Homo sapiens: one gene and its partner. The protein of the gene in region 1 purifies or fractionates together with the protein of each later gene. This does not show direct contact. Each region holds a gene or a part of one and is shown on either strand. Other genes may lie near its edges.

The links.
Region 2: the proteins of IL4I1 (region 1) and TMPRSS13 purify together in Homo sapiens (affinity purification with western blotting; one study listed by BioGRID). This does not show direct contact.

The regions. Positions count from the first base shown.
Region 1 is NC_000019.10:49,891,310-49,893,994, forward strand, and holds part of IL4I1 (L-amino-acid oxidase isoform 1 precursor), read right to left. Parts: intron 165-2,685; coding exon 96-164; intron 1-95.
Region 2 is NC_000011.10:117,912,246-117,916,063, forward strand, and holds part of TMPRSS13 (transmembrane protease serine 13), read right to left. Parts: intron 2,270-3,818; coding exon 2,147-2,269; intron 1,662-2,146; coding exon 1,532-1,661; intron 1-1,531. UniProt on the Homo sapiens protein: Serine protease. Cleaves the proform of PRSS8/prostasin to form the active protein. Cleaves the proform of HGF to form the active protein which promotes MAPK signaling.

The DNA of each region.
Region 1 (2,685 bases):
TAGGGTGCCAGGTACCCGCCTTCTGACTCTCTGGGGAAGGCCTCATGGTCACTCTCTTTGCCCTGCATCTCAGCAGAACCAAGATCCCCACTTACCAAGAGCGTGTGCCTTTCAAACTTCTTCATCGCCTTTCTGCAGCCCAGTGCCTTGAGGTCTTTGAGGGCCTGTTGTGGAAGAAGCAGACATGGTGCTGAGCTGCCCGGGCAGCCAGGGTGGAGGCCGGGCCTGGAGCCCACACTCGGCTTCTCCTCGTGGTTCTGCCCACGGCTGGCCATTCACCACTCTCAAGCCCCTGGGCTTTTGCCCACACCATGCCCTCCGCCTTGCCCTCCACGGCAACTCAGATGCCACTGCTCCTCCGATATTACCGAACTGTTAACGCCGCCCATCCCCCCTCATTCGGCTGGCCCGGCTGGTCACAGCTCATCCCGGTTGCGTGTTATTTTGCCTATTTTTCAGCCAGCCAGCCAGACTGTGAGCTCCATGGAGGCAGGGATGTGGGCAGCTGGAGAGGAGACTGGGAGAGGGTCCCAGGCGTGCTGTGTCCTCCCGGGGGCTCAGTGATTATTTGTTGCCTGAATCACTGTGGCCACGGACAGAAGCTGGTCCCCTGTGCCACTGGTCAGTGCTGACAGGGCATGATGGCTGAGAAGTTTATCTACCGTCCGTCCCCTGCCCACAGCCCTCCTGTAGCTCCCCAGTGCCTGGAGCCACAGAATTCTTGCCCCTCAGCCTCATGTTCAAGGCCCCTGCTAGCCCCTCAATGTCTTTTTTTTTTTTTTTTTTTTTTGAGATGGAGTGTCGCTCTGTTGCCCAGGCTGGAGTGCAGTGGCGCCATCTCAGCTCACTGAAACCTCTGCCTCCCAGGTTCAAGTGATTCTCCCACCTCACCCTCCCAAGTAGCTGGGATTACAGGCGCCTGCCACCACACCTGGCTCATTTTTGCATTTTTAGTAGAGACAGGGTTTCATCATGTTGGTCAGGCTGGTCTCGAACTCCTGACCTCAAGTGATCTGCCTGCCTCGGCCTCCCAAAGTGCTGGGATTACAGGCGTGAGCCACTGCGTGCCAGGTACCCGCCTTCTGACTCTCTGGGGAAGGCCTCATGGTCACTCTCTTTGCCCTGAATCTCAGCAGAACCAAGATCCCCACTTACCTCAGTCCATGTCTTTTATGGCAGCTCTGGTTCTGTGAACAGTGTACAGTGCCCAGACCACCTGCCCTCAGGGCTCTCCCACCTACACATCTGGCACCTATTGTTTCCCTGCCTGTCTTTGCGTGGCACATGAGTGCGTGTTCTTCAGCACTTTGTTCGAATCTCACCCCCTCCCAGAAGCCTTGCTGCCCCCATCTAATTTCAGCCTTCTTCTTGGTCCACCTGGCTTCCCCCTTCTGGCCAGGACCTCAGAGGGAAGGCAGTGCCCCTTCACTCACTCATGCATCTCGCATCTCTCAGACTCCCAAACCAGTCAGTGTCAAGGCATAGAAATGACCTGGACATGGCCCCCATCCTGGTCTAGAAGGGGAGATGGGCAAGTGGGCTCTGACCTGGGTGGGGAGGGGATGTTGGGTGTGGCCAGTTCCTCCCTAAAGGTATCAGGGAAGGCTTCCTGGAGGAGGGGACATTGGAGCTAGTTCTTGAGGGCTGAGCAGGAGTTCCTGTGTGGGGAAGGGAAAGGCATTCTGGAAAGGGAGGGTGATACACAGGTATAGTGGGTGTGAGGAACACAGAGCTGGGGGCATGTGGACCACCATGAGGACAAAAATTTCTTAGAGGAGAAAAGAGCATGAGGCTGGAGGGGTGCAGAAGGGAAGGCCAGTCAGGGCTCAAAGCTGAGCCTGAAAAGATCAGACTTTGTCCTGGAGGCAGCGGGGAGCCACTGGGGGCTGTGAGCAGCATCACTCTGGGTGTGTGGGAAGACGTTTCTGGTACCAGGCTGGGGAGACTAGAGCCTGGGCAGCTTGAGAGGAGGCTGGGGGAGGGTCCAGGGCAGAGGAGGAGGCCTGAGCTGGGGCAGGCAGAGGGGAGCAGGGCACAAGCGTCAGGCGGCAGGGGTGGGCACTGATGGTGGGGGAGGTGGGCGAGGAGGAGGTCAGGAGGAGGATGGCTCCTAGGGGTCTGCCCGTGACTGCGGGATGGTGGGGCCATCGTGAGATGGGGGCACCGGGAGGAGGAACAGGTTTAGGGGAAGCTTCTGAGCCCAGTGTCCTGGGGAGGGACACAGATCAGGGTCTCGGGAGGCAGATGTCTCCATCAGCCCATGGATCTATGTTTAAGCCAGAGGTGGAGACTGGGGAGGTTATCCAGGACAGTGTGTGGGTGAAAGGGGAAGAGGCCAAAAGCTGATGCAGCTTTGGGGTCAGCAGTGTTTACGGGGAAGCTAAAGAAGGGAGTTGGGGCCGGGGGCAGTGGCTCACGCCTGTAATCCCAGCACTTTGGGAGGCTGAGGCAGGTGGATCACGAGGTCAGGAGTTCAAGATCAGCCTGGCCAAGATGGTGAAACCCCGTCTCTATTAAAAATACAAAAATTAGCTGGGCGTGGTGGCGGGCGCCTGTAATCCCAGCTACTCGGGAGGCTGAGGCAGAGAATTGCTTGAACCTGGGAGGCGGAGGTTGCAGTGAGCTGAAATGGCGCCATTGCACTCCAGCCTGGGTGACAGAGTAAGACTCCATCTCAAAAAAAAA
Region 2 (3,818 bases), on another chromosome or scaffold:
AGTTTGAGAAACACCAATCTTGCCCTTTTCTACCCAAACTGTCATCTGTGAATAAGCAGCAGCAGCAACCCCCCCAGACCTACTGAATAAGAATCTGCATTTTAAAGAATCCCAGGTTACTGATCTGTACATTAAAGCGTGAGAAGCTCTGGGCAAGCCCACTGGATCTTAGAACACAGCGTGCCTAAGAATCACCTTGGGATGTTTGCTGAGCAGGTTCTAAGTCCTAATCCCAGAGATTCTGATTCCAAGATGCATTTTCACAAGCACGGCGGGTGATTCTAATGTGTTCTACTCTCTGCATGGAACATATGTATATTTCTAGAACATGGTACACCCCTGCGTGACGCCCTGGCATGACACTTAGCACACGCTGCTCCTCTACTCAGAGGGCCCATTCTCTGCTCTCTCCACCAGTGCAGTTAGGCACCCTCTCCACTGTATGCCCTTAGTGCTTCACCCACATCCTCATCATTACATGTCACATCGTGCTGTGGTTATTGGTTTAAGTCTCTCTCACTGAGCCACACTAGAGGTCCTTCAAGGCTGGGCTCCTGTCTTATTCCTTTGTGTCCAGGTACTACACAGTATCTAGCACACGATAAAAGCTCAATGAATATTCTTTGAATAAGTGACATTCAAAGACCTGAATACCTAAAGGAGGTTCAGGCTTGCATAAGGCCACACAACTCATAAAAGATGCCCATGGTCTTCCATCTGCATTACTACCATCCCCCTTTCATGGATCTGGACAGGCTGAGGTGGGGTGGAGAACATGTTCTAAATCCTAACACCCCACCCCAGGTGTTTTTGGTGCTTCTTCTGTAGAGAACCCACAGTGAGATCTTAAACTCCTCTCCCCACAACCTCACACACACTGATAAACCCAAGACTACCCATCTGGAAAACTCAGTCCAAGAGGGAGGATGGAGATGCGTGTCTGGGCTGAAAATCAGACACTTCTTCAAGTGGAAGGTCATTGCTCACCTACTTCCTCCTCTACCTGTTAGCACTGCCTGATTTGTTTAAAATCTTTAGAGCCAAAGACCCTTATGATTCTGCCTAGCCTCACCTGCCCCATTTCATTCTCCATTTGATGAGGTCTGGCTCAAGACACAGTAGCTATAGCTCAAAGTCCATTGAAAGGCTTTGCACAACCTGAGCTTCTAGTTCCCAGATATAAGAAGAAAAGATCTGCCCAAATGCCTGCCCAAGTCGTAGGGCCACCACCACGATCAGTGAATGTGATAATGGATGTGAGCGTGCTTTGATGCAAAGAACCATCTAGGAGTCTGATACTATTGCAGATCTATACATCATTATGTTGGCCTCATGAAAACAATCTGCTCCAGACTCATAGGATCTCAGGGCCTCTGACTCTGAACACCTCGAGGGTGTCCAGAGCTAGTGAGATCAGCCCCGGTCCCCAAGGGTCTTTTTAATATAATGTTTCTGCAACATGCTTGAGACACCCTATGAAGAGCCTGAGACATCCCTGAAGCCTGGACTCTGGGGCCAGGTTGGGGGTTACCTCTCGAAACCCAGCTGCTGGCAGGTCTTCTCTGAGTAGGAGTCATTCCAGTTGCTGCTACAGATGGGAAGCCACTGATGGGAGGACCCAGAGTAGATTTTAAGCAGAGACTTGTCCCAGTCAAACCTCACTGCAGGGCAAGAAAAAGGCAGAGCAGGTCCTCAGCACCTAGGAAGCATCAAGCTCTTGGGGGATGAGCTGAGTGAGGCTTTGAGAAAGCGCTTGTCCTGACAGCACTCCTTGCTGAGGCCTGGGAAAAGTCCAGGAACATGGCCTGGGTCATGGGGGTTAACCAGTACTCAGAAGCCCAGGATGCCTAGCATGGACAGAGCCAATGCAAAGTCACTAGAGTGCTACAGACTGATGCAAACTGTGTATCAGCTCAAATGGGAGGCAATGGACAGGGAATCATTGGGTCTGGATTACATACATGCACACATGCACACACACATACGTGCACACACACATACATGCATACACACAAACATGCACATACACACACATGCACGCACACATATACACACACAGGCATGCATACACACACACATATACAAACAGGCACACAAACACATGCACATGCACACGCACGCGCTCCCCCGCACCCAGCCTCCTTACCGCAGCCCAGCTCGTCACTCTTCAGCTTGCAGTCCACCACCCCGTCACAGCGAACAGCGTGCTTGGGACAGCTCTCCCTCTGCTCCTTGTACCTGATCCCTGTGTGGCCCTGCCAGAACTGGACTAGAGAAAAAGAAGCAGACAGCTGGGTCATGGCCAGCCCCACTGAGATGAGACACTGAGCAGCCCAAGGACCTGGGGGTTCTGAGACACCGACCTGCAATCCCTCTTGAACTCTGGGGCTCTCATCCCCCATCTGTATGGAGAGAAAGGCTGCTCAGGAATGCTCCAGAATGCTCCAGAAAGCTCCTGCAAGCAGGGCAGCACCAGGCAGATTCAAGCAGCCAGCCACCCAGAAAGAGAGAGAAAGAGAGAGAGAGACAGAGAGTGCTGTGGAGATGGGGACCACCTTGGGAACTCCCCTCCCTACATGCTGGCCAACATAGTGGCCAGAGAAACCACCTCCTCCAGTATCCCAGAGCTTCCCTCTCAGAACCCCTCTGCCATCCCATCTTCTCTGTGCTCCGCAGGGTCACAGCAGATAAATTTCTGTCCTCACAGTCACACAGGCAACCACCGTCTGTCTGTTCTCAAAGGCGACCATCCTTCCAGCCTCAAAAGCTCCTAGGTTTTTTGCTTCTCCCTCTCCCCTGCGCAAGGGACACCTCTATGCTCAGTTCTTTCCCCATGACTTGTCTTTATGCCTTTAAATGTCTTTTCAATCAACCAGCAATTCTAGGTGGCTGATTCCCACATATACAAGTTGGGGCTAAAAGAAAACAGCTTTACAAGCCATATGTGCAAATCTGCTTCACGACTTCCTCCCTCTCTAACAGCAATCTCTTTCCAAACCAGGGGCTGTGGGCCCTCCTGCCTGGAGGCACCTCCCCTTGGCTGCCTCACAGACCCGGGTTCTAACTTCTCACCCTGCCGCTCCTCCTCCACCAGCTCCTCAGCCCCACCCCTTGCTTCTCCTCCGGGGCCCACTGTGCTCTCCATCACCCAGGGTAAAGGCCGCCCGGGTGTGACTGCTCCTTCCAGGTCCAGACACAAATCCCTCCTAATCTCTTGGGCTGGCCCCTCCTCTCTGTGCCCTGGTCTTCCTCCCATATCCTGGGCACTCAACCCCCGGGGAACCCTGGGCAGTCTCCCCTGGAGTGCTCATGGAGCCCCACGTGGATGTGTAGTGGAGAGGGTACTGGGCCGGGTTGGGAGTCAGGAGGCCTGGGCTCTAGTCCTGACCCCACCAGGTAGCTGCTTGGTGACCTGCACAAGTCAAGCCACCTCCTTAGCCCTGGAGGTCTAGAGGCCTCCCTGGCAGAGCTTTTGGGAACTTCAGGAAATGCTGTGAAACCACGCTGAGAGCTTTAGTTCTATTCTGTGAGCCCACCCGTGGGTGCCATCTCGCCCCTCCATGGGTTAGTCCTGTGGCTTTCATGGAGCAGGGTGCCCTGTAGTGGGAAAGGGAGGGAGGGCAGGGCAGCAAGTCACAGCAGGCACCATGCCGAGGCCTTTATGTGCATTATGACAAAGACCACCCCACCCAGTCAGACTGGTGGGGAAACTGAGGCTCAGAATGTTAATGGACTTGTCGAATTCACACAGCCTGTCGGTGGCAGAGCCAGGGTCTGTGTGGCACTAAAGCCTGCTCTGCCAGCACACTGCCCCTCCC